Linked DNA regions of Homo sapiens. The protein of the gene in region 2 purifies or fractionates together with the protein of the main gene of each other region. This does not show direct contact. Each region holds a gene or a part of one and is shown on either strand. Other genes may lie near its edges.

Evidence for each region.
Region 1: the proteins of NLK (region 2) and UBAP2L purify together in Homo sapiens (affinity purification with mass spectrometry; one large-scale study listed by BioGRID and IntAct). This does not show direct contact.
Region 3: the proteins of NLK (region 2) and TFDP1 purify together in Homo sapiens (co-immunoprecipitation; one study listed by IntAct). This does not show direct contact.
Region 4: the proteins of NLK (region 2) and FOXO3 purify together in Homo sapiens (affinity purification with western blotting, with the first as the bait; one study listed by BioGRID). This does not show direct contact.
Region 5: the proteins of NLK (region 2) and OBI1 purify together in Homo sapiens (affinity purification with mass spectrometry; one large-scale study listed by BioGRID and IntAct). This does not show direct contact.
Region 6: the proteins of NLK (region 2) and TRPS1 purify together in Homo sapiens (affinity purification with mass spectrometry; 2 studies listed by BioGRID and IntAct, with this or other methods). This does not show direct contact.
Region 7: the proteins of NLK (region 2) and PASK purify together in Homo sapiens (affinity purification with mass spectrometry; one large-scale study listed by BioGRID and IntAct). This does not show direct contact.

What each region holds. Positions count from the first base shown.
Region 1 is NC_000001.11:154,227,455-154,230,954, forward strand, and holds part of UBAP2L (ubiquitin-associated protein 2-like), read left to right. Parts: intron 1-1,160; coding exon 1,161-1,271; intron 1,272-3,500. UniProt on the Homo sapiens protein: Recruits the ubiquitination machinery to RNA polymerase II for polyubiquitination, removal and degradation, when the transcription-coupled nucleotide excision repair (TC-NER) machinery fails to resolve DNA damage.
Region 2 is NC_000017.11:28,189,177-28,192,676, reverse strand, and holds part of NLK (serine/threonine-protein kinase NLK), read right to left. Parts: intron 1,657-3,500; coding exon 1,458-1,656; intron 558-1,457; coding exon 464-557; intron 1-463. UniProt on the Homo sapiens protein: Serine/threonine-protein kinase that regulates a number of transcription factors with key roles in cell fate determination. Positive effector of the non-canonical Wnt signaling pathway, acting downstream of WNT5A, MAP3K7/TAK1 and HIPK2.
Region 3 is NC_000013.11:113,633,253-113,636,752, forward strand, and holds part of TFDP1 (transcription factor Dp-1), read left to right. Parts: coding exon 1-33; intron 34-637; coding exon 638-781; intron 782-1,281; coding exon 1,282-1,350; intron 1,351-2,724; coding exon 2,725-2,876; intron 2,877-3,281; coding exon 3,282-3,448; intron 3,449-3,500. UniProt on the Homo sapiens protein: Can stimulate E2F-dependent transcription.
Region 4 is NC_000006.12:108,675,917-108,679,416, reverse strand, and holds part of FOXO3 (forkhead box protein O3), read right to left. Parts: intron 1-3,500. UniProt on the Homo sapiens protein: Transcriptional activator that recognizes and binds to the DNA sequence 5'-[AG]TAAA[TC]A-3' and regulates different processes, such as apoptosis and autophagy.
Region 5 is NC_000013.11:78,652,656-78,656,155, forward strand, and holds part of OBI1 (ORC ubiquitin ligase 1), read right to left. Parts: intron 1-3,500. UniProt on the Homo sapiens protein: E3 ubiquitin ligase essential for DNA replication origin activation during S phase.
Region 6 is NC_000008.11:115,658,976-115,662,475, forward strand, and holds part of TRPS1 (zinc finger transcription factor Trps1), read right to left. Parts: intron 1-3,500. UniProt on the Homo sapiens protein: Transcriptional repressor. Binds specifically to GATA sequences and represses expression of GATA-regulated genes at selected sites and stages in vertebrate development. Regulates chondrocyte proliferation and differentiation.
Region 7 is NC_000002.12:241,139,473-241,142,972, forward strand, and holds part of PASK (PAS domain-containing serine/threonine-protein kinase), read right to left. Parts: coding exon 3,365-3,500; intron 1,282-3,364; coding exon 1,049-1,281; intron 584-1,048; coding exon 413-583; intron 1-412. UniProt on the Homo sapiens protein: Serine/threonine-protein kinase involved in energy homeostasis and protein translation. Phosphorylates EEF1A1, GYS1, PDX1 and RPS6.

The DNA.
Region 1 (3,500 bases), on a different chromosome or scaffold from region 2:
TATAGGTATTGAAAGAATTTTGACCTGAAATATAATAGGTCAGGCCAATAAATAAGTGCTTTCATTCTCTAATTTTTTGTAGCCCTTTGTTTTGTTTTTTGTTTTTTTTTCAGATGAAGTCTCACTCTGTCACCCAGGCTGGAGTGCAGTGGCATGATCTTGGCTCATTGCAGCTTCTGCCTCCCGAGTTCAAGCGATTCTCGTGCTTCAGCCTCCCGAGTAGTTGGGATTACAGGCGCTCACCACCATGCCTGGCTAATTTTTTGTATTTTTAGTAAAGATGGGGTTTCACCATGTTGGCCAGGCTGGTCTCGAACTCCTGACCTCAAGTGATCTGCCTGCCTCAGCCTCCCAAAGTGCTGGGATTACAGGTGTGAGCCACTGCACCCAGCCTATTGTAGCCCTTTGGATAGATACTTTGTTTGGAAATTTTATCTTAATTTTAACCTCTTGCCTGTTGCTGATGCCATTTTGTAGAAACTGAGCAGTTGTGGGTATAGGAAATGTGGAAATTCATGCTGAAGCCTGTGTGTTTCAGAGTTTGATTCTGTATTTGATGCTTAATTGCTTTGTAAATACTTTTGACCTCATCCCTGAACCACAGATGTTAATATTTGGCTTTTGGAAATAGAATACCAAAATTCTACATGTTTTCCTTTTTGGCGGGGGTTGGGGGGGTGGTTCTGGAAAACCTGCTAGGCAAATTCTACATCATTTTTCTTTCTTTCTTTTTTGTTTTTTTTTTTATTTTGAGACGGAGTCTTGCTCTGTGGTCCAGGCTAGAGTGCAGTGGCGCAATCTCAGCTCACTGCAACCTCCGCCTCCTGGGTTCAAGCAATTCTTCTGCCCCAGCCTCCCAAGTAGCTAGGATTACAGGCGCCCGCCACCACACCCAGCTAATTTTTGTATTTTTAGTAGAGACAGGTTTAATCATTTTGGTCAGGTTGGTCTCAAACTCCTGACCTCAGGTGATCCGCCCACCTCAGCCTTGCAAAGTGCTGGGATTATAGGCGTGAGCCACTGTGCCCAGCCCTCATCTTTTGCTTTTTAAACTTGTTTTTTTCAAACTCAACTGATAGCGTTTCCCTTCACCTAGTTTCCTTTCATTGGGAGTGTGAGCATAAGCCTGTTCATGATGGTTGCTGTTTTTTCTCTTTCAGTTGATTGATATTACAGGCAAGAACCAGGATGAATGTGTGATTGCTTTGCATGACTGCAATGGAGATGTCAACAGAGCTATCAATGTTCTTCTGGAAGGAAACCCAGACACGGTAGAGTGCTTATAGAGTGTTCTAGGACATGGGTCCTCAATTGGGAGGCTAGTAATGTTCTAAAAGTAGCAAATGGCAACATACCTTAAAGCAGAGCACCTTTTTCTTGAAGTAAAGTTGGGAACTTTCTTGGAGATTGTTCACCACAGGTTATAAATACTTAAAATTTATGTGTACTACATCCTTTTTATGAGGATAATGCTCATAGGAGAAAACAGTGAAATCAGTCTCTGCTAATTGGCCTGGAATAAATTATTTATTCCAGGCTAGTGACTGTTTTCAGGCTGTGGGGTTAGGCTGAATTAGAGGTGCGATTTGATAGCCTTGGATATTGCTGTTGAACAAAGTCACACACTATACTTGATTCTGTTTTTTTTTCTTTTTATTTTATTTTATTTTATTTATTTTACATATTTGATTCTGAATTCAGGACATTCCCCTCAATATCAGCTTCGCATTGCACACTACTGTTTCATTGCCTGAACTTCCTTCTGTTGAGGTAGCAGAGAAACAAGCTTTGTAGCCTGCTGACCATCCCTGGAGATGATAGGGGATATCTTGGAGGATCTCTTGCCCTGGAATTTAGACAAGTCGCTTTCACTTCTCCTTCCCACTTCATGAGAATTCTGTTTTTATGCTTGTCTTATGTTTGTACCAAATTGTAATCCTCTGACTGCCTTATTGATCTTCAGAATGTTCCTGCAGTGCTTACTAGAGAAATTTTGTTTTTTTAATGAGCAGTGTATTATTATTATTATTATTATTTTGAGCCAGGGTCTTACTCTGTGGCCCTGGCTGGAGTACACTGACATGCTGCAACCTCCTCGTCCTGGGCTTAGGTGATCCTCCTACTTCAGCCTCCTGAGTAGCTGGGACCACAGGCATGGGCCACCATGTCCAGCTGATTTTCCCATTTTTAGTAGAGCCAGGGTTTCTCCATGTTGCTCAGGCTGATTTCAAACTCCTGGACTCAAGCTAGCTGCCCGCCTCGTCCTCCCAAAGTGCTGGGATTATGGGCATGAGCCACCGCACCTGGCCCAGTGTATTATTTTGAAATCATTTTCATTTATTGGGTCTTATACTGGGGCTCTTTGGTTGGAATAGATATCAAAATTCATCCTTACAGATAACAACTTGTTTTTTTTCTTGAGTCAGAGTCTTGCTCTTGTTGCCCAGGCTGGAGTGCAGTGGCGTGAACCTGCTCTCTGCAGCCTCCACCTCCCAGGTTCAAGTGATCCTGTGCCTCAGCCTCCAGAGTAGCTGGGATTACAGGCATTCACCACCATACCCAGCTAATTTTTTTTTTTTGAGACGGTGTCTCTCTCTGTCTCCCAGGCCGGAGTACATCTCGGCTCACTGCAAACTCTGCCTCCTGGGTTCAAGCAATTCTCATGCCTCAGCTTCCCGAGTAGCTGGGACTACAGGCATGCACCACCATGCCTGGCTAATTTTTTGTATTTTAGTGGAGACAGTGTTTCACTATGTTGCCCAGGGTGGTCTTGAACTCCTGAGCTCAGGCAATCCTCCTGCCTCGGCCTTCCAAAATGTTAGGATTACAGGCGTGAGCCATGAAACCTGGCCTCAGATACAACAGCTTTCTGATACTACAGAGTCACTCCAGCTAAATGCAGGAGGTTTGTCAATTTCTTTGAGACAATGGGAAATAATAATGGAAAACTTTTAAAAACAATTGAATTTAAATTGGTGGGTTTTTTCTTCAAAAGTGTTATCCTGGATTAAATTTTACACTGTTGACCTTATTTGAATATTTACTATCTGGCCAATCAAGATATGCTTTTGATTTGTTTTGGGTTTACTCTAGAATAATTGTCTCCAGATTTTATGGGGGGAATCAGGTGGGGCTATTTATGTTTTTTTAAAAGTCTGAATGTTTTTTCGCAAATCACATTTTATCTTACCTTCCAGCATCTTCTGTCTAGTGCTATAAGGCTGATGTTATACAGTATCAAAAAGGAAAATAAGCTGGAGAATATAGGTTTATGTTACGAATAAACTAGCTACTAGTGAAACCAATGGGAAGCAAAGTCAGCTCCCAGGGATATTGGATGTATTTGGGTGGGTGAGATCATTTCAGAAAACTGAAGTCGCCTTTGGGAAGATAATAGTAATTCTTTCTCCTGACCCATCTTGTGCCAGCAACAGATGTGCATACAGAGGAGGGAGAAAGGTTACAGTTTCCTGAAACTTGCCAGGTTTTGAGATAGCAGC
Region 2 (3,500 bases):
TTTTTTTTGAGATGGAGTTTCGCTCTTGTTGCCTAGGCTGGAGTGCAATGGTGCGATCTCGGCTCACCGCAACCTCTGCCTCCCGGGTTCAAGTGATTCTCCTGCCTCAGCCTCCCAAGTAGCTGGGGTTACAGGCATGCACCACCATGCCTGGCTAATTTTGTATTTTTAGAAGAAACAAGGTTTCTCCATGTTAGTCAGGCTGGTCTTGAACTCCAGACCTCAGGTGATCTGTCTGCCTTGGCTTCCCAAAGTGCTGGGATTACAGGCATGAGCTACCGCGCCCAGCCCAGATGCTTACAGTTTTAATACACTTTTGACTAAAGCCAAACCTCATAACAGAAACTTTCTGTTGCACCTTTTATCTATGTTATCTAAATAAAAACAAATATGCTGAATAATGAAGTAACACTGGCATCCTTTTAATTCTAACAAGAATGTTGAATTACATACATATAGTTACCTAATAAAGCTCTTAAAAGCAGCAGACTGAGGGTTGATGCAGAGAGGCACTCTGTTTCCTTTCTGCTGTTCCAAAATGAACTGATGAATAATTTCTGTGGAGAAAACAAACATCATACAATCCATGACAATTTGCAAGCCCGGGAGCAGTGAATTCTCAGCGAACTCTAGCCAGCATCTGAAAAGCACTGCCTACTGGTTTAGTTAAATCAAACACACACATCATCTATCAAGCAGAATTCAGCTGAACTTCCTAAAACTAAAATGACAGCTGTTGCTAAATATAAGAAACCTACTGGTGGCATTACACAGACTGCAACCCCATCAGTGGGAAGAGTAAAATGGCCTATAAATTTGAGAGAGACTCCACAGGTTTGGCATTATGGGTGAACTCTTCTAAGTTGCTGGCAATTATTGCCTTTTTGAAGATCACTTAAAGACCTCAGTTGGTATCTAGGTGTATAGTTTCAGGTGGTTACTTTGGGGACTACTCTCTCTCTTGTAAAATGTCCTACAGTAGACACTAAAATCACTCAGAATTTTGGATGTCATTACTCCCACTGTATTCCAATAGGAGATCCTGCCACAAAATTTTATGAGTACACTATCAGAAATTCCCTTCTCTTGTCATCGTCCAAGGAATAATTCCCTCAGTGAATGTTTATCCTTTATGGAACTTTGTATGTTATATAAAGTTCAATACGTTTGAATCAATGAAATGACACTGAGTGAATACATATTAAACATATTTTGAGTCATACTCACTAAATAAACTTTGAAAATAAGAACAAAATATTCATTCCTCTCCCCGACCTTCCCCTGGATATAATATTAAATATGCTTTGTTATGCCCCGGACACACAGCTATACGCAAGGTTGTAAAATAAACATAGAGGGGAGCTTTGGTTACCATCCAGATCTCAGCTCTTCATGGCCACCTAATGGAAAATGTTACTAGGCATATTGCCTGGCCAAAGGCCAAAACAGATACTCACCTTTAACCTGTCGGACAGAACTGAGGTTCTTCTCGAAAGTGTCATCAAATTTGGGATTGGTGACAGGCTCAAAGTCACTGGTATAAACTCTTCCAGTGGAGGTGGAAAAGCAACATTTACACATACATGTGTGATATCGTAGTCGCCCTTCATCTAGGTAGGGGTGGGCTAAGGCATCCTTAGCGGATATTCTTTTGGACTGAAATCAAATTAGAGACCAGCACATCAACACTACAGATAAAATGACTGTCCACATAGGATCTTTCAAAAGACACATTAACTGCTTGACATAGCATATATATAATTTATAGTACATCCCGTCCAAAGAGGGATAATTGAATTTAGAGGTGGGTAACATAGCAGCAGAGGGAGTGTATGATTTAGGACAACTACTGTTATTATCTACCATCACAAAGTACTTAGAAGTGCCTTTCTTCTAAAATTCTAAGAAGTTACTACATTGAAATAGATGTATGCTGGGTCAAAAATCACAAATATCATGACATTTAACTATGTAGTGCTTTGAAGGGGTTACGTTTACCTTTTAAATAACAGGCTATATTTTCTAAATATGTGTCAGCATCCTGAAGATGCGTTCACAGTGGCAATTTTCAAAGTTGCTTGAAATTTTTATTCTCTTAGAATACCAAACAGATGATGGCAAAAGCTGCTGGAGTTAGGCAGCAGACAGTGGTCTGACTGCCATATTTTGAGATATAGCTCAGTCTGAATATCAGAAGTCTAGTCTAGCTTTTTGTTTTCTGGCACTTTATTTTTAAATTTTTTGTAGAGATGGGGTCTCACTGTGTTCTTGAATTTGTGGCCTCCAGTCTTGGCCTCCTGAAGTGCTGGGACTGCAGGCATGAGCTACTGCACCTAGTCATTTTCTGTCACTTTAGATCAGAATACTGAATGCATGAGTTTTAAGTTTGCCTGAAAATCTAAACTTTTAACATTACTCCATGAAAAAATTAAAGAAATTGTCCCTTCTTTTAGCTCAGTAGACATACGTGTATTACTGAAAGTAAATTTTAAAGATTTAAGGATGAACTCACTAGTACACAGTAGAACAAAAACAAGAACACACACTTTGCCCTGATTCCAATATGACCAAGCACTTCTTCACATTACACAATTTAAAAATGAAAACCACTTTTGTTCTCAGATAAACCAAAAACAACTGTTCTCGTTCCCAAATAATAATGAAATGTTTCTCATAAGCCCGGATTCCCTAAAAACACTTTTATCACTGATTTTTGCTATGCTGATGTAAAAAGGCATGTCATGACCTTTCAAGATAAGATAATCACAGAAGAAAGCGGGTGTTTATCTACCAGGAACAGGCAAACGTATACTTGATAACCTTGTTTTTTTTTCCTTTCAATAAGTTTATGTTTTGTATTTGGTGATCTAGCTCTTTTGAAGTCTGACTTCCCTGCATTCTTAGCAAGTAAACTTTTTCCTTTTCTTTTTTTCTAAAAAAGTCTGAGTCCTTTGATAGCGATTCCTAGAGATTCCACTGGGATAGTGTTCCACTGTTTGAACCCAAAGGAACAAGTAGGCTGACAGTGTATGTGCCTGATCCCAGGCCTCTCTGAGCCCTTGGCTTCCCTTTCCTTCTATTTTTCTTTAACTTCTGTTCATGAGTTTCAGGACAGAACTTCAACGGTTTATCCTTCTGTTCCTTTAGGTTACATACAGTGATCATTCCAACAACATACTTGTCTGTAAGATGCTTCACACTTACACCACTGTGCAGTTTCTCCAATAGCTTGGCATTCTGTGCTATAAACAGAAATGCTTCCTCTTTTTAAAAAAATCAGTTACCTGCTGGGTTATCTGCAGGACTTTTTGACATTTTCAACAATATTTTTACTCCAAAGAGCACAGAATAGGCAAAAAATACAGTAAATAATGCCTATAGGTCTTGGCAGCATGTGGGACATTGTGGGGAACCTGTCATTGGTGCATCTGGCCTGCAGATGTGCCATTTTATTACCCTTTGTGGGCACATTTGCATGGGGGAATCTGGATATGCTTGGG
Region 3 (3,500 bases), on a different chromosome or scaffold from region 2:
GCTGCCGACAACCACATCTTACCAAACGAGTCAGTAAGTGTGTGCCGGGGGCCGAGAGGCTGGGGTGGCGGAGCCCAGCGGTGTGGTACGTTTCGCTCTTTTAATATCGGGAACAGTTAAAACCATACAGAAAATGCCAAGTACAGCATAAAAGAATTTTTACCAAACGAGTCAGTAAGTGTGTGCCGGGGCCGAGAGGCTGGGGTGGCGGAGCCCAGCGGTGTGGTACGTTTCGCTCTTTTAATATCGGGAACAGTTAAAACCATACAGAAAATGCCAAGTACAGCATAAAAGAATTTTTCCGATCCATTTGCTGGCACGATGCTTTGTCAACTCCAGTGAGTGAGCACGTGGGCTGGCTCTGCACGTCTAGCGGCCCAGAAATGCACAAATGCCCACCTCACCAGCTGGGCTCGACACCCGAGAGCCCCCGGCTCTCCTTCTGGAACACACTCAGGCTTCGCACAGCCCCGTCTTGCCCTGCGTCATCTGTGGGGTGGGAGCGCTCCCTGAGGGCATGTTGGGGTGGCGGCTCCGTGAGCGGGGTGCCCCTTTGAGCCAGTGCCCATGGTCTACAGTTTAAGGATCCACCGGCCTTTTTGGATCATTTGGAAACTCCACTCCCTGTCATCCCCAGGCTTATGACCAGAAAAACATAAGACGGCGCGTCTACGATGCCTTAAACGTGCTAATGGCCATGAACATCATCTCCAAGGAGAAGAAGGAGATCAAGTGGATTGGTCTGCCCACCAACTCGGCTCAGGAATGTCAGAACTTAGAGGTGCCCCTTCAGCCTTCCTTCAACCTTGATTTCCCTTCAAGTCCGTGTAGATGTTTTAGTCGTCGGTCACTCAGAAGGGTCTGGGCTCCGTGCCCTTATGCTCTCTGTGTCCGGCTGGCAGACGGTCATGCAGACGTCTCCCTGCGTTTCTCAGTCTTGGCTGTCAGGGGAGGGAGCATGGTTGGCCCAGACCCACTAGAGTCTGTTAAACTCTAGTGTAGGTTAATTCTGAATCCTAGTTTGTGGGATTTTTGTTTTCTTTTTAGATACCATAGTTAAATCCAAGAAATGAGAGGAAAGGGGAGAAGGTATAGTTTAGAAATGGAAAAAAAACTCACCTATATCTTGTAGCACCTGCTATGTCTAGATTTGTCCATATCCCTTCGATTACATTCTGGGTAAACATAGGTAACACTGTGAGGATGTGAGGATGTGGGTTTTAAAAAACGCTCTGTGGAACAGTTGTGATGATTCTTCACATGGGTGGTTTGTTTTTGAAGGTGGAAAGACAGAGGAGACTTGAAAGAATAAAACAGAAACAGTCTCAACTTCAAGAACTTATTCTACAGGTAAGAGAATACGTATCTGTGGAGGCAGGGTAATTTTTATTTTACTAATTTAGCTTTATAACGGCAACATACTGCCTTGGGTTACACTCCTGCATGGCAAATCAAATGACTGCTCTAAGATTCTGAGTGTGAGTTCATCTCATAGGTGTTGAACGTGGGCCTTATTCCCAGAGCGAGGTTGTGCACGTGCGTGTGCATGCATGTGTGTGTGCGTGCATGCATGCATGTGTGTGTGTGTGCATGTGCCTGTGTGCGTGCGTGCGTGTGCCTGTGTGCGTGTGCATGTGTGTGCGTGCATGTGCCTGTGTGCGTGTGTGTGTGTGCATGTGTGCATACATGTGTATGTGTGTATCTCTCGTCACAGCATCTAAATAGGCAAAAGACAGATGGAGGGATGACTTCATGCAAAAGCAACATTTGAAAAATCTCCTCAGAGGTGCTTAACCCAAGGCCCAGGTGCCAGGCAAGGCCTGTAAAACTGTGGTGGACACAGTGCACCTGGGTCTTGACAGTGCTGATCAGGGCCCTGGAGCTGGCCTTCCCCACCTCCCATTGAGTGCTGAGGGTGGGCGGCACCACTGGGGGCCCCGTGTCTGGTGTGGAGGGGGTTGTGTGCAAGGTGCTCACTGCAGAGCTGGCTGCTGCCCTGACCAAGGTGTGCTCGAGCCCTCCCAGAGGGGACGGTGTGGCAGCCGTGGTGATGGAGGCTCGTGGGCAGGAGCTCCTCAGGACCCACAGAGTGTCAGGAGGGACAGTCCTGGTTGCCAGTGCCTTAGGACCTGCCAGGTGGGGATAGACCCAGGGTGGCCGGGAGAGGAAGGGAATCTCCTGGCTCTACATTAATAGCAAAGAAGGTCTCTCCAAGTGGAACACTTGGTTTGGGGCCCTGAGGCCCTGGCCCTGGATTCAGCCTTGCAGGGCCTATTCCCCCAGAGGAGCACCCCTGCAGCACATGGGCCCTTCTGCGTTCCACTTTCCAGGGTGGGCAAAGTCCACGGCACGGCACCCCCTCCAAGGCCATCACCCTGTAGGTGCCATGGTGGTAGGTGGTCTTAGAGGGGTGAAGGACAGCAAGGAATCGACTTCCAAAATTGGTGTTTTGTTGAGCGCCGTTGCCGTGGAGGACACTTTTATCAGGGCACGGATGGCTGTGCGCCCGCTTTCCCTTAGTTCTCCCCTCAGGATCCCGTTTCCTGAGCGCTTTTCTCCCTGGGCTGCAGAGGTCAGCACCCAGCGGCCGGCGCTGGCATTTCAGATGTCCAGGCCAACTCCTCGCTGTCACGTGGACGCAGGGAGGGCTGTGAGGACCCCTCGAGCACAGGGGCTGCGTTCTTGTGCCGCCACGGGCCACCTGGCTCCTCTTATTTTTTTTAGCAAATTGCCTTCAAGAACCTGGTGCAGAGAAACCGGCATGCGGAGCAGCAGGCCAGCCGGCCACCGCCACCCAACTCAGTCATCCACCTGCCCTTCATCATCGTCAACACCAGCAAGAAGACGGTCATCGACTGCAGCATCTCCAATGACAAGTAGGTTGTGGGCGGGGAGCTGTTCCCTGGTCACCCATCTCTTTTTTAGGGAGCCGACCCTGTTGGTATTGTCACTAGGACAAGTTTTAAATGTTGTACAAATAGCAAATGTTGCACAAATTGCTGTCCATTGGGGGGTGGTGGGAGGCTGCCGCCATGTGGCAGATGGAAGGTCTCTGTTCCGGGAGCGTGTGCCTTAGGGCATGTCCTCCTGGGGAGAATAGGCCTCGATTTGCCTCTCATCTCATTTACTTCAGAGTTTATAAATTCTGTGAGGAGACACTGATGACTGGGAACCGGGAAGCTGTGTGTGGCGGTCAGCGGGTCAGCCGTCCTGGCTCCACCCCAGTGTGTACCGTCTCCGCTGGGAGACCCTGTCTTTCTGACTGTGCCTTTCCCCTTCAGATTTGAGTATCTGTTTAATTTTGACAACACATTTGAAATCCACGATGACATAGAAGTGCTGAAGCGGATGGGCATGGCTTGCGGGCTGGAGTCGGGGAGCTGCTCTGCCGAAGACCTTAAAATGGCCAGAAGTCTGGTCCCCAAGGCTCTGGAGCCATACGTGACAGGTCAGCAATGCCCAGACAACCTGGCGTGGCTGTGTGAGGAATGGCCCCCAGC
Region 4 (3,500 bases), on a different chromosome or scaffold from region 2:
AGCCGCTCATCCTAAGTAGATGAGTTATACTTTTCTGGTTCTTCCCTACTGGCTATGTGGACTAACTGAATTGCTTACCACCCTTTTCCACGAATACCCCAACACCAGTGGAGATGAAATGGCCACTTTCTATAAAGGCCTTAATAAGTCTGCAGTGCTGGGTGTGGGTAATCTTGACTCCCCTATTCCCCACCATAAAAAGAGTAAGTAATTACTAAGCGGGCCATCTTAAGAATTTAAGAAATGGGCCGGGCGCAGTGGCTCACGCCTGTAATCCCAGCACTTTCGAAGGCTGAGGAGGGCAGATCACGAGGTCAGGAGATCGAGACCATCCTGGCTAACATGGTGAAACCCCGTCTCTACTAAAAATACAAAAAATTAGCCGGGCGCGGTGGCGGGCACCTGTAGTCCCAGCTACTCGGGAGGCTGAGGCAGGAGAATGGCGTGAACCTGAGAGGCAGAGCTTGCAGTGAGCCAAGATCGCACCACTGCACTCCAGCCTGAGCGACAGCGAGACTCCGTCTCAAAAAAAAAAAAAAAAAAAAAAGAATTTAAGAAATGGGGTCTTGCTATGTTGCCCAGGCTGGACTTGAACTCCTGGGCTCAAGAGATCCTTCCGTCTCAGCCTCCTGAGTAGCTAGGACTACAGGCACGCCAATGCACCTGGCTTAGGAATTTGATTTTTGTATTACAAATTTGGAGAAAAAAAATTACATAACACATATATGGACAAGAAATCCCCCATAAAACACCCCATTAACAATCAACAACATTATTATTATTCTGCCTCCAATTATTATTTTGTCTTCAATGGAAAGGCACAAAAAAGGTGCTCTTAGAGCATCTGAATTTATACAAGTCTTATCAGATGTCATGTGACCACTGGGCCCAGAAAAGTTAAGGGATTAAAAAAAAAAAAAAAAGTATATTCATAGAGCTGTCTTAATAGCAAAAGGACGTGACATGACAGACCTCCAGACATAAGATTCTTTGTTTATGGAGATAGTGTTGGCAGTTATGGTAGTAAAGAAACGGCTCTAGGCCAAGAAATGGATAGAAAAGTGGTAGTGAAACAACATGAACTCGTGCTTTTCTCTCCAGACAAGGTAAATAAGTAATGAAAAAAGCATCAAAAAACTCACACACAAAATCACATTATATACATCTGCTTCTCCCACCTTTAGAGGTTGTACCGTAGGGTCATCAGGAATTCTCATGAGTGTACTGTAACTTCAATCTCTTCTGTGACTCTGCACTTGCTGGCAATCTTACCTTTCACTCTCAATGTTTGCAAACACAGCAGGACTTAGTATTTACAATGTTACATGCCCATGGTCATATTTACTTATCCTTGTTAAAGCTCCAAATTGAAGAATTTAGGTTGTTTTACTGGAGGTAGGGACAATAAAGTATAAAAAGAAGCCTCTTTCTTCTTCCTGTCTATCCCTAGGTTTTAGTTTCCCTGGCTGATGGTTTTTTGGGGCATTCTTTGCTTTGTAAAGCTACTAGATAATATTACCTTGGACTATAAAATAATGGCTTGTTGATTCTAGAGGGAGTAAAAGCTGAAGTAAATACTAGATCTCAGCATCTGTGAAGACCGTAGCTTGCTAAAGTCAGTGCTATTCTAACTACTCTACCTTGCCCTGCAAAGTATGAATGATTAGATAGCGTTTCACAGGCACAGTCCTCTGGAAGAGGATTTGGTTTTTTCCCCTCACAATAACACTTAATAAACCACCATCCAACATCACTATGTGATCAGTCATCAGGGGACTCCCATCCCCAAGTCCCCATCCTGACTTACTGTAAGCGCCGAGGGAGAAGCTGTAAAGTACTACCTAATTCAGATCTCTCTCCAGTTCCCTTGGGTATTAATTATGCAGCCACAGAAGCCAGTGCATAATGGGAAGGTGACACACTTCATTCCCCAAGTACAGAGACAGGGAGTGTGGCTTGCTCCAATGTGGGCTGGGCCAACACAGCAGGAAAGAGGACAGAGGACACCCATGAGCCCCTAACAGAGCACAATTTTGAGCAGAACAGGCCATCACCCCAAAGCCAGGAGTAGGAGGCCCATGTGGGACAGTCTAAAGCACTAACCAACCACAGTCCCCAGGCTTAATATCCATTCCTTCATCAAAAGGCCCCAATCTTCAGAGAACTCCATTATTAAAAACGAGATGTGTGAATCACCACTTTCCCTTTCTGCAGATTGGGGTTGGGGTCACCTGTGAAGCTATGTTCTACAGCTTCCGCTGAGGTCCCCCAGGCAATGCCCTCCCAGGGAGGCCTGCTCAGGAAACCACCTTGGTGCTTATAGGCTGAATTGGTAGAGGATTTGGCCCAGGTATAGAGGCAACTCTTGCAGAGGACAAATTTAATACAGAAACTCCCACTCCAGAGAACAGAAAGGCCTTTGGTTTCCTCTGTGACAGAAGGAAAACAGATTGTAAAACACTGAAAATATAGAAGATAAATGTTGAACAGAAATACAATTAACCTTCTCAGAGGAACACCAGAATCACCATTTACAATGAAAACTGGGGTAATAAAAATAATCAAAAGGAAAGCAGCAGCTCATCTGTCTTAGATTTTTAATGGCTCTCCTGTGGCTCAATGTTTGTACATGCTTATCTGATTCAATCAAGGACAGAAAGAGTAGAGGGAGCATATTAAGTGATGAAACCCAGCTACTGAGCTGGGAAAGTCAATGATACTTAGCTTGGGTACAAGTTTCATGGGTTTTAAGAAAGCTCATGTCATTCTTAAATAGTTTAAAGTATGACATTTTAGTTATACGGTTATTTAGTTAACCGTGAGATTTATGTGTATGTGTCGATGCTCTTCTAGTTTAAAAACACATCGGATTAAGGGGCCAGGCATGGCGGCTCATGCCTGTAGTCTCAGCACTTTGGGAGGCTGAGGGGGGCGGTCCCTTGAGACCAGGAGTTGGAGACCACCCTGGGCAACATGGCAAAACCCCGTCCCTACCAAAAATACAAAAACTAGTCTCATAACCCGGTCTCAAAATAAATAAATAAAATTTTAAAATGCTGTAAGAAAACACATCAGATTAAGCAAAACTTTTGAAAAGAAAATGAAGCTACAGCTGATGGAATTGTAGTTTACTCTGCAAGTACTAGGCAATATGCCAATTAACAATAAATACAAAGATGCTGTTCTGTCCCATCAGTGACTTTCATTAATAAGGGAAGACGCCCTCTCTCCCCTCCCTGCCCAATAAACAAGTTTGAAATCAATTGCTGATACAAAGAAAATGAAATGGGGAGACCAAATAAATGATGAGGTCCATTCTAAAAATATCTACGGATGCTGTCATCTGGTCTCTGGTGAGAGCAAGTCCCTCTATAATCTTGGCATCTGTAGGGAAGACAAGTTTCTGCCTAATTATCACCATAAATCACATGATACTCTAAGAAAGGGAAATGCCTCCAAAAACTACACAAAACATAACAACCCCAATCAACTTTAATCTG
Region 5 (3,500 bases), on a different chromosome or scaffold from region 2:
ACCTCAGAACATCAGGCATTAGACTCTCCTAAGGAGCACACAATCTAGATCCCTTGCATGCACAGTTCACATTTGGGTTCATGCTCCTATGAAAATCTAATGCTGCCTCTGATCTGACAGGAGGCAGAGCTCAGGTGGTAATACTATCTCACTCCCTGCTCGCCTTCTGCTGTGCAGTCCTGGTTCCTGATAGGCCACTGACTGAACAGTACCTGACTGAGACTGGAGACTCCTGCCCTAGGGTATATCCCCCAGGTGTAAAGGATGGGCTCTTCTTACTGGAATGGGCCTGAGGGGGCAGTTCTTGGGGCAGATATATTAACCTTACAATCTGTTACTCTGATATTTCATTTCTTTTAAAGATGTTCCAGTCTTAAGAGAGTCCACTCTACCACCAAATCCCCTTTCTTAAAAAAGCAAGTATACTTGGGCAGAGACATGCCTAAGGCTGTTGTTCATTAATATCCATATCATCCTAGACTTACCCACTAGGAGTTACACATTGGCTTCAAACAGCGTTTCTCAACTTTGACATTACTAACATTTTGGACTGAAGAAAGTCTTGTTTTAGGCGGTTCCCTGCATATTACAGGATGTCTGGCTAGCAGCATCCCTGGGCTCTACCCACTAGATGCCAGTAGCAGCCCCTTGAAAACAATGAGAAATGTCTCCACACACTGCCCCATGTCCCTGGGGGACAAAATCTACCTCCACCTAGTTGAGAACCACTAGTATGGTATAGTCAAAGGAATCTTACTAATAAGCTAGTGGGGCTGTTGTATCAAATCCATTTTCAGTTGTGGAAACTGAGACTCTAAGAAATAATGATACAGGTTATAAATGGTAGAGCTAGCATTTGTACTCAATGTGATTCAACTGCAAAATCATGTGTTCTTTCAACTAAGAAACAGTTCTTTCTTCCTTGGAGCAGGGTTAGTGAACAATAATCTGGGAGAAATAAATACAGGACGATGTGCCTGAAGGAAGTGAGATCCTGGACACTGATGGAGGTGATGGGAGTGAAGACGGTATTGATGAACTTTACCAACTGGTCTTGCAATTATATCTATTATAAAACCAACTCCCCTGCTCTTCTGGCATCCTCCCCTCACTAGAGACAAGAGCCAACTGTGCTTCTAGAAAGAATATTATTCTTTCTTGCACCTTGTCAAAACTTTATCGGTTTCTCTAGTGAAGACCTGGAAAGACTATGTAAAGGATTAGTCTTCAGTGTAAAAATGACTATGGTAGGGGCACCACTACTTCAACATTAGGAATTTGGAAACTTTCCAAAATAAAATTCCTGGATAGCTCTTGGTTATGTTTTAAGAAATCCCTGGTTCTGGGCCAGAATTTAGGTCCTATAACTTAAGGAAAAAAAAAAAAAAAAAACCTGTGTGAAATAAGTCACTTAATGCCTATAGAACTGGTTCCCCATTCCTGTCTAGGTAAAAGGAGAGATGATACATCTCTTCTCTTCTACCTTCATCCCTACCAGAAATGCTTTGGGATAAACTGGAATTGTACTTGTCAAGTAAGTATGTCAGCTATTACATACCAACCCTGATAATTACTAGGATACATCTACGATTTTTGAATTAACTTATTATACACTATGTATAAAATGCAATATTGTTATACTTTTCTGAAAGTGAATCCTTCAAACTTATTTTCAACTGGAAAAAAGAGAAAAATGTAGAACTTGCAGTCCATATGGCTTTTTTTCAAAGCAAATTACTTATGACAATTATGTACAAGGCTGGTTCTTAAATCCACTCTTGGGAACTGAGAGGCAATCAGGACTCAAACATGGGCTCCATGTACTGACGTGGATGACTTGCTGATCAATCAACAGCTCCAAGTGAACAGTGATTAATGAATTTTGTCATCCTAGAGTGAGGACTCTAAGTTGCATAAGGCTTTGTCTCTAGCCCTATATTTTCAATATTTTAAATAAACAATATGGGTGAGAAGAAGAGAGGCATCCCTGAAAGAAGGGATCCTTTTGATAGCATTCCTTATGGGAAACAGTCAGTCTACTAGAGGATACTCCAAGACACAGGAACTCCTGCATTATAAGGAAGCTGATTTCATTTCTGGTTATTTCAGCCAGAACACTTGCCCTTAATATTAAGTAGAAATCATAATTTTATGGAGCCACACAAGGCTTGAGTCCCTTCCAAATGAAAAATATTTTAATTAAAGATTCCCTATCATATCCATTCATTCCAGCACTATTCCAGTCCACCTACATTCCAATCCCAATTTCATTCTCCCCCAAATGTTTTCAAAATACTCTGGTTTATTGTTTATCTTAAAGGGTAGGACCCAAAACTGGACTCATAGTCGAATGAGAAATAACTGAATATGATACATTAATGCTGAAAAGCATTAGTTGCTTTGCATTTCTCTTGAGAATCTCCTTCACCCTTTCATAAAACCAACTGCGGGCCACATTTGGCTTTCACTCATGGCAAAATGCATGCACGGCCAATAAAAAGTATTACATGCCATAATTTGGTTTCACAGCTTGAGTCCCAATTGAAAAGATAAACCCTGGAATTATCTAGAGGTAAACTGGTTTGTAACAGCCTGGTGGCACTATCAAAATGTCACTTAACAGATACTCTGGGATAGATCATTACTACATTTCTGCTTGCTGGCCCACTAGTTTAAGAAACAAACAAACAAAAAAAAAACAGGGAAGAATAGGTAAGAAAATATGTTATGCGTAAATCATCCCATGGGATGGTACCTAACTTCTTCAGGCCACATAGAGCTCTTACTTACAATATTGGCAAAGTAACTAAAAACATTATTGGGTAGAGAAAATTCACCTTTAAAACTGAAGTAGAGACAGAGGTGTAAATTTTCCAATTTTAAGTGCAAAGACAAAGCATTAACAGGTGAATACCTGGGCTCTCTCTCCTTCCTCTCCATCCCCACTGGCATCTATCTCTTCAGATTTAATGCCCTGCCCTCATCTCTCCCCCTTCATGGTATCCACCTTGTGACCCTCCAGGGATAATGGTCCTTAATTCTGTTGAATAATCAAAAGAGAAGATGCTGACTGTGAGATCTGGGGACATATGGTAACAGTAGCACAAGAACAATTATCTTTAAAAAAGAGCTAGGCACGAAGGACCTTAGGAACATTCTTAGAAGTGGCCAGAGATGCTCTATGTCAGGGAAGCAGAAGCGAACCTGAGGACACGCCAGTTTTAGTATCTCACAGTATAATACGTGTAGGAGGGTGAGCAGCACAATCATACTGAATTTGCTTTCACTATAAAAAAGAAAAGAGACATGGAACCAGCTGAAAATTCTGGATGTACTGTGGCAATTTCCAGAACAAACAGGTCTCATTTGGTTGGGAATGCAAATCTTCATTTTGAAGTGCTCCAGCCTCACAAAGCAACTGGGAAGAACAATTACTGGAAAAGGCTGGTTTCCTCAGTTTGAGGGCTGGCCTCAATGGCTATAGTAAAAGCTAACAGTTA
Region 6 (3,500 bases), on a different chromosome or scaffold from region 2:
TGTTATAAATAATGAGGGCATTCCTTCAAAAGCACAAGTTTTCTTAAAAACGGGACTTTAAAAATAGAATAAACAGTGATGGGATAGAGTAAAATAGTTTATTATAATTGAGGTTTAGATGACAGTGAGTTTCTTACAGTAATTTACCACATCATACATCCAAAGAATGTAATTCAAATGCATTATAAATACAAAGGAGAAACATCTCTTAGTGTTGGTTTATAAGCTACAGAAAATAGTATTTCATATTTTTCAATCCTTGAATGTGTAACTACTTACTGACTACTTGTAAATTATTTTCTAAAACTTCCCTAAGTTTGCAGAACTGAGGAGCAAATTTTGCAATAATCTTCTAAAAAGGTATACTTCCAATATTAATTTAAAGACAGCTTAACATATTCCGTATTTTTTAATTTATAATTTAAATATAATTACTAATATAAAAATTCAGCAGCCAAACACAGGTAAAACATATCATTTTAAAAGATCTCAAAGGTATATCAAAAAATAATCGATAAAGAATTATGAATCATACAACAAAGAGATGAATATGTATTGAAAAATTTAGTAATATGGGCCTTGATTAAAATTAATATATATATGACCTGTCTTAACTTGGCATCAAAAAGCAAAGCAAAAACAAATACAAAACTTTCTTTTAGGAACTTTTATATGTTCAGAGCTACTTAAGAGTATTGAGAGAAAATGGGCTGATGTATTTTATTTCCACATCTTGCAAAGCTAAAGATGATGTGCAGATAATGACATCACAAAGTAGGCACAAGTAGAATTTGGTTTTTAATTTGTTTTGTCTATCATGCTCTCATTTCAGAACCAAAATTACAATTAAATTAACCCTCAAATAGGTGTTGGGATGCATTAAGTAATTAAAATGGGCATTACAAAGACTAAAGTCATTTCAAAAAATATGCAATATGCTAAAATTCCATGTAGTGCCTGTAATGTAAAAACATTCTAAGCAAGTGAGACTATAGCTATCCTGCATGTACATGTACGCACTTATTTAATATGAAGCCACAAATTCATATATTCCACTTCTGCATAGCTCAGAGAGCAAAAGCTAACACTAGATTAGTAATGCTTGATCCCTTTGTACATGAAGTGTATCATGTAATAGAGAAATTAGATTCCACAAACTAATTTCTGCCATATATTTTTACACTATTTATAAACATATCTGATCTTCCATATGATATGTAGAGAAATTGAAATAGCAATTCACATTGTATTGTAGAATCTAATCAGGAAGCACATGTTATATTATTAATGTTTATTGATTTGTAAGCTTTATACATTCTGTCCAAATTCTACAAGTAAAAACAGCTCTGAAATCCTTTTGATCTTTCTTTTTCTACAGCTAAGGTATTTTTAGTGTTTAAATAGCAGTTGATGTCTTATCTATTGTCTTATACGGTACTGGATTCATTCCTGGTTACTATAATACTCAATTTAACAACTAGTAATATTAATGCTTTTTCCAAGCTTGGGACATATATAGCAGATAATATAAACATGTTTACTATGATTTATGATACTATACTACTCACTATCATGAATACAAAGTAATTAACAGATAAAGCTATTATGAACGCAAACAAGAGAACCATGCTCCCCTCAAAAAAGAAAAAAAGAAATGGAACATAAACTGTAAATACTTGTATATTTCCTTCTAACACTATCTAGTATATTAGACAAATAGCTAACAATAAATCATTTGTTTATTCATGTTAAATAAATTTAATATGTACATTAACTTCTGACTTAACTTAAAAGTATATGGAATGTTTTCCAGAGACTATTTTGACTGTGTCAATTACCCTAGATACCAAAGTTGTTGTATTGTGTTGCTTGATGAAATAGGACATAGATCAACCCTCAAAACCAGTATTACAAGCCTGGCAAATAGCATCACATTTGGGTGACGCACAGAATCCATCACCCTAGGGAAAAATGCATTGGGTCATAGTACAGAGTCTTTACATGTTCCATATTATTTCTACATAACGTTTTGAGATGATAGAATTGTAAACTATAAAGTGGTAGCCCATAAAGTGATATACTCACAAACAGTCCTGTCCCTTAACTGCTCCTCTTAACAGAAATGAGACTTAAAAAATGATCTCAGAAGCATTTCTTACAATACACTGAAAGGTGGCATTTTGATTTATAATTTTTTTCATTTAAAAAAATTCCTTAGTAAATTCAGAGCAGATATAAGTATTATGATAACAATTGATTCATTATGTTTAAACTCCATACTCATTTCAAACTTTTAGACTTCATAATGTAGGTCATGTTAACTCCTTAAAAGATTCACATTTCAAGCACAGAGTTAATAGTTAGCATTCTAAATTCCACCATCAAGATGTGTCTAAGTATTATCGGTCTACATACATTCCACATATAAAACACACCTATAATAGCATGCACATATATTGGCAATAATTCAAACATAGCAAAGCTATCGTGAGTACTTCAAACATTTGCAGGCAATTACATTGCTAGAACTCCTCTCATATTATAGGTATCCTATGACAAGCTACTAAAAAATTACACAAATCAAAAAGTGTTACCTTTGTTCAAATAATACTGCTGTTCATTATACAACAGAAAACATCATCCTTAATCTCTCAGGAACCAAGATAGTGGTGGATTCTTGGAGCAGAAGTAGTGCAGAATGGTTTGCGGCAAAATCGAAACATATTGTTTAAGTAAACCTTAAGGGGAGGGGAGCATATGCGCAATTGATGGATTTTTTTTTTTTTTTTTGGTATCATCTTCCACAAAACCTCCCACCAACCCCTCCCCACCACTTACCAGTAAACAATCTGCGATATTAAGGGACTGCAACTCTAAACACCTCCCTTTGCCTTATTTCCTTCTTGCTAAACTTTATTGCTTTTCCTCATTTTTGAAGCAACAAACAAAATTCATTAAATAAAAATTTATTAACAGATGCAGCCATAACATGAAATGTATGTTTGAAAACTTTGTAATAAATAAAATGAATCTAGACTTACTCCAAGAAACTTGCACTATGCTGATGTGAACAACATATACATTAAGTTCCTAAAGTTTTTCCAAACAAATCTTTAACTAAAGAAGCCATAAGCAAAAAAGGAATGCCTACGATTTGAACTAGAGTCTGTAACTCTCGCAAGAAAAACTGAGAAACATATCAAGTAAATCAAAACTGTCAAATTTATAAGCAGAGAACACTTCAATGCCCCAAATTTGCGGAATGCTTTTTATAGTCATAAATGCCTTAAAGACTGTACTCTTCCTTGTGTGACACTTAATTTTCACTATATATATTATTCCTTAAATGTGCTCTAGGTAAAGAAGGAAAAAAAAAATCTATCAGGAAGAATTTGGGTTAAAAGCAAAGTCCACGACAAGTAACCGTAAGATTTAAACCTCAGGAACAATTCACAAAAGAAAAGTCGAAACAGTACTTAGTTCTGAGCCACCGAATGGGG
Region 7 (3,500 bases), on a different chromosome or scaffold from region 2:
CTTCCAGGCCAACACCCCCGCCCGCTCCCACAAACACCAAACAGAATGTAAAAATCAATAGACAATAAAACCATATTACTCTTGAGCATCTGATGTGCTGCCCGGCAGGACTGCAAAACATTAGTGAAGCTACAGCCCTCAGACAAAGCAAGGGCCACCCACGACACCTCCCAGGAGTCCAGCCACAGCCACAGTGTCCATTCCTGCGATGATTCGTTCTTAAAGGGCCCCCACCCCCACTGCAGCTGAAGCGGGGAAACGGCGCCTGGGATGACATTTTCAGCTGAAGAAGCTGAGATGTCCTGGTGCCACCCAACCCCCAGCAGAGCTCCTGGTAGGGAACACTGAGCTGTTCCTGCCACACACTGCTGGTCTTGAGGCCAGACTGAACGCTGCACCCGCATCCACTCACCACCGTGCCAAACACCACCGCAGCGTGGCCGTCGGCCTCCATGTGCTCCTCGCTGAGGGCCTCCACCACATCAGAATCTGACCTCAGAAAGAACTGCGTGAGCTTCTGGCCAATCAGGTCCTGGCTGCTGTACCCCAGGAGCCCGCAAGCTTTGTCGTTAGCAACCAGGATCTGAGGAATCACAAAGAGGAGCAAGGATGCAGACATCCCCAGCAGCTCCACCAGCTGCCCAGAACAGCCCAGGACGACCATGCAGAAGCCAGCCTTTTCCTGACAGACAGGGTCTCACTCTGTTGCCCAGGCTGGAGTGCAGTGGCGCAATCAGAGCTCACTGCAGCGGCGCAATCAGAGCTCACTGCAACCTTGAACTCCTGGGTTCAAGTGATCCTCCTGCCTCAGCCTCCCTGGTAGCTGGGACTACAGGTGTGTGCCACCGCACCTGGCTAATTTCTTTGTAGAGATGGGATCTTGCTATGTTGCCCAGGCTGGTCTTGAACTCCTGGGCTCAAGCAAACTTCCCACCTCCCGAAGTGCCCAAATGTTTTTCTAATTGCATTAAAACACACAAATCCCAGGTTTAAGGCACAAACCACAAATCCACATCTACACAGCTGGATCTAAAAGAGAAGCAAATACCTCTGTGGTCTTGGCATCCACCGTGAAGATGGCCTTGTTAGGGTTGCACACAGGGGCCGGAAGCAGAGGTGAGGACCACCCTGAGGACAGTCCCCGCAGCAGGGAGCAGCAGGACACACTGCCCCGCGGTTCGGACGGGTCCGTGTGCTCAGGGGCAGCAGGGCAGTGCAGTTTACTTGTACAAATATTCTGGGCAGCCAGTGATGATAGACAATAGGAGCTCCATCTGTCTTCTGAAAAGAGAAGCGAAGCGAAGCTTTAGACTTCACACAGCTGCCAGAGTCCACCTTCTGAAACAGGCAAAGCACACAGCCCTTGCCCTCAACTCCTGCAAAAAGATCTAAGGATTAAGTCAGTCTGCACAGCTAACACACACTCTCACTGCGTGTCTGAACATGGTCCCCAGAATCCACTTAGGCAACCACCAGGTCCACTCGGAAGCACAAACAGCATAAGATCAACACTTCTGTGTCTAAATTACACTCAAAGCCAGGCGTGCCTATAATCCCAGTTCTTTGGAAGGCTGAGGCAGGAAGGTTGCTTGAGTTCAGGAGTTCAAGACCAGCCTGGACAACACAGCGAGACCCTGTCCCTACTAAAAATAAAATTTGTAAAAATCAGTTGGGCATAGTGGCGTGCCCTTGCAGCCCCATCTACTCAGGAGGCTAAGGCAGGAGGATTGCCTGAGCCCAGGAGTTTGAGACTGCAGCGAGCTATGACTGCGCCACTGCACTCCAGCCTGAGCAACAGTCAGACCTTGTCCCAAAAAACAAAAAAGCTTAATTACACTCAAAGGTTCCTTCCTTCCCACCTTCTGTCCTCTGTCAGTCATTCCAAGACCCCATGGCCACTCCGGTGGCTGCCCCGTCACCTCCTCCTTGGAAGCGTTCCTACGATTCAAGAGCTCCTTGTGCAGCGTTCTCTCAGCAACGCCTCCAATGGCTCCCAAAACCCTCAGCCCCGTCATTCCTCAGGCCTCACCCTCCTCCCACACCACCCTCCTCGGGCACCTGGGCTCCCCCACCTCCCACCTCTCAGTGACCCTGGCTCCATCTCACCCATTCCTCGGTAGCTTTAAATACATCTAATTAGAAATGCACTGAAGACTCTCACACTCGCACCTCCAGCCTGGACCTCCCACGGCCCACTCGCCTGCTTCCCCATCTCTGGAGACACCAGATACATTCTTCCAGTGCTCAAAACCAAGCACTCAAGACCTGACCCTTCCATTTCTCTCCCATCCCCTCCCCTCCATGTCCTCCAGCCAGGACCCCTGACTTTCTCAGTGAGTGGCCTGACCCCGACCATTCTCTGAGGCTGGAAACCACGTGGCCATCCAGCCACTCTCGCCCCTGCTCTTCCCCAGACAGCAGTCACCAAGCGCAGCTCCTTCTCATGTCTCAAGGCCCTGTACCTCCGGCTCCCACCCCTGCTCCTCATGCAGCCACCAGAATGATGCTCCAAAAAAGGAACACACCTGTCAACACTCACTGAGAACATTCCTGATCAGCGCCTGGGTGAAGCCCACTCCCAAGGGCGCTGTGTGCCTCCCAGCCCACCCCTCCCTGCAGTATCCTGGGCACTCTCCACAGGGCCCTCCGCTCTACACCCTCAGACACTCCAGTGCACAAGCTCAGCTCCAACACCCTCCTACTCCAGTGTCGAAGTGCTCCTTGACCTGGAGACCAGACTCCCAGCCACCATTTCCCGCAGCTCTATGCCCCACTTCCCCATTTTCCAGGTCTACCCCAACTTCAAGCACACAGCCTGCTGTCTCCCCAAGTGCCTCCATCAGACAGCCCCTGAAAGGCAAGTGACGCTTCCTTCCTCACCATGGCCCAGTCCTTTGGGGTGCCTGGACAAAGGAGGCACCAACGGAATCTGGACATAGGAGGCACCAACAGACTTCTGCCCCATGATTCTTGGTCCACCAGCTAAACCGCGTTTAGCTCAGTAAACTGCACGAGCAAAGCTGCAATTCCCTAAGTAAAATAGCCTAACCTAGAACAGCGTTCTCACATACTCTAAAGTAAGAAATAACATTTTGTTGTAACTTGACCCTGAAATGTGAAGGTGAGTTCCACCTGCTGCCTGAAAAGAAGCGCCAGCTGCCTGGGAATCACAGCAGAGTAAAAGCAGCAGGAAGGGTCCTGCCGGAGTCATCTGCCAGCATGAGCCGAGCACTTAAACCACGAACTTTTCTCTGCAGGAATAGAGTGACTTCAATCCCTGGTGAGAGGGTTTCCATGAGAACACAGAGCAACTCCACATTTGTATTTCCACGCGCTAAGGCCTGCAGTGGTCGAAGGTCATTACCAGAGAGCGCTGTCCTGCTCTGGCAGAGTCTGGAAAGCCCATTCCTTCTGCTCAGGTGTCTGTGGGCTGAGGAAAACGACCTGCTGGGCTCAGCAGTGGTCTGTGCAGCTGGGCCCTCTGCTGACACTGGCAAGGG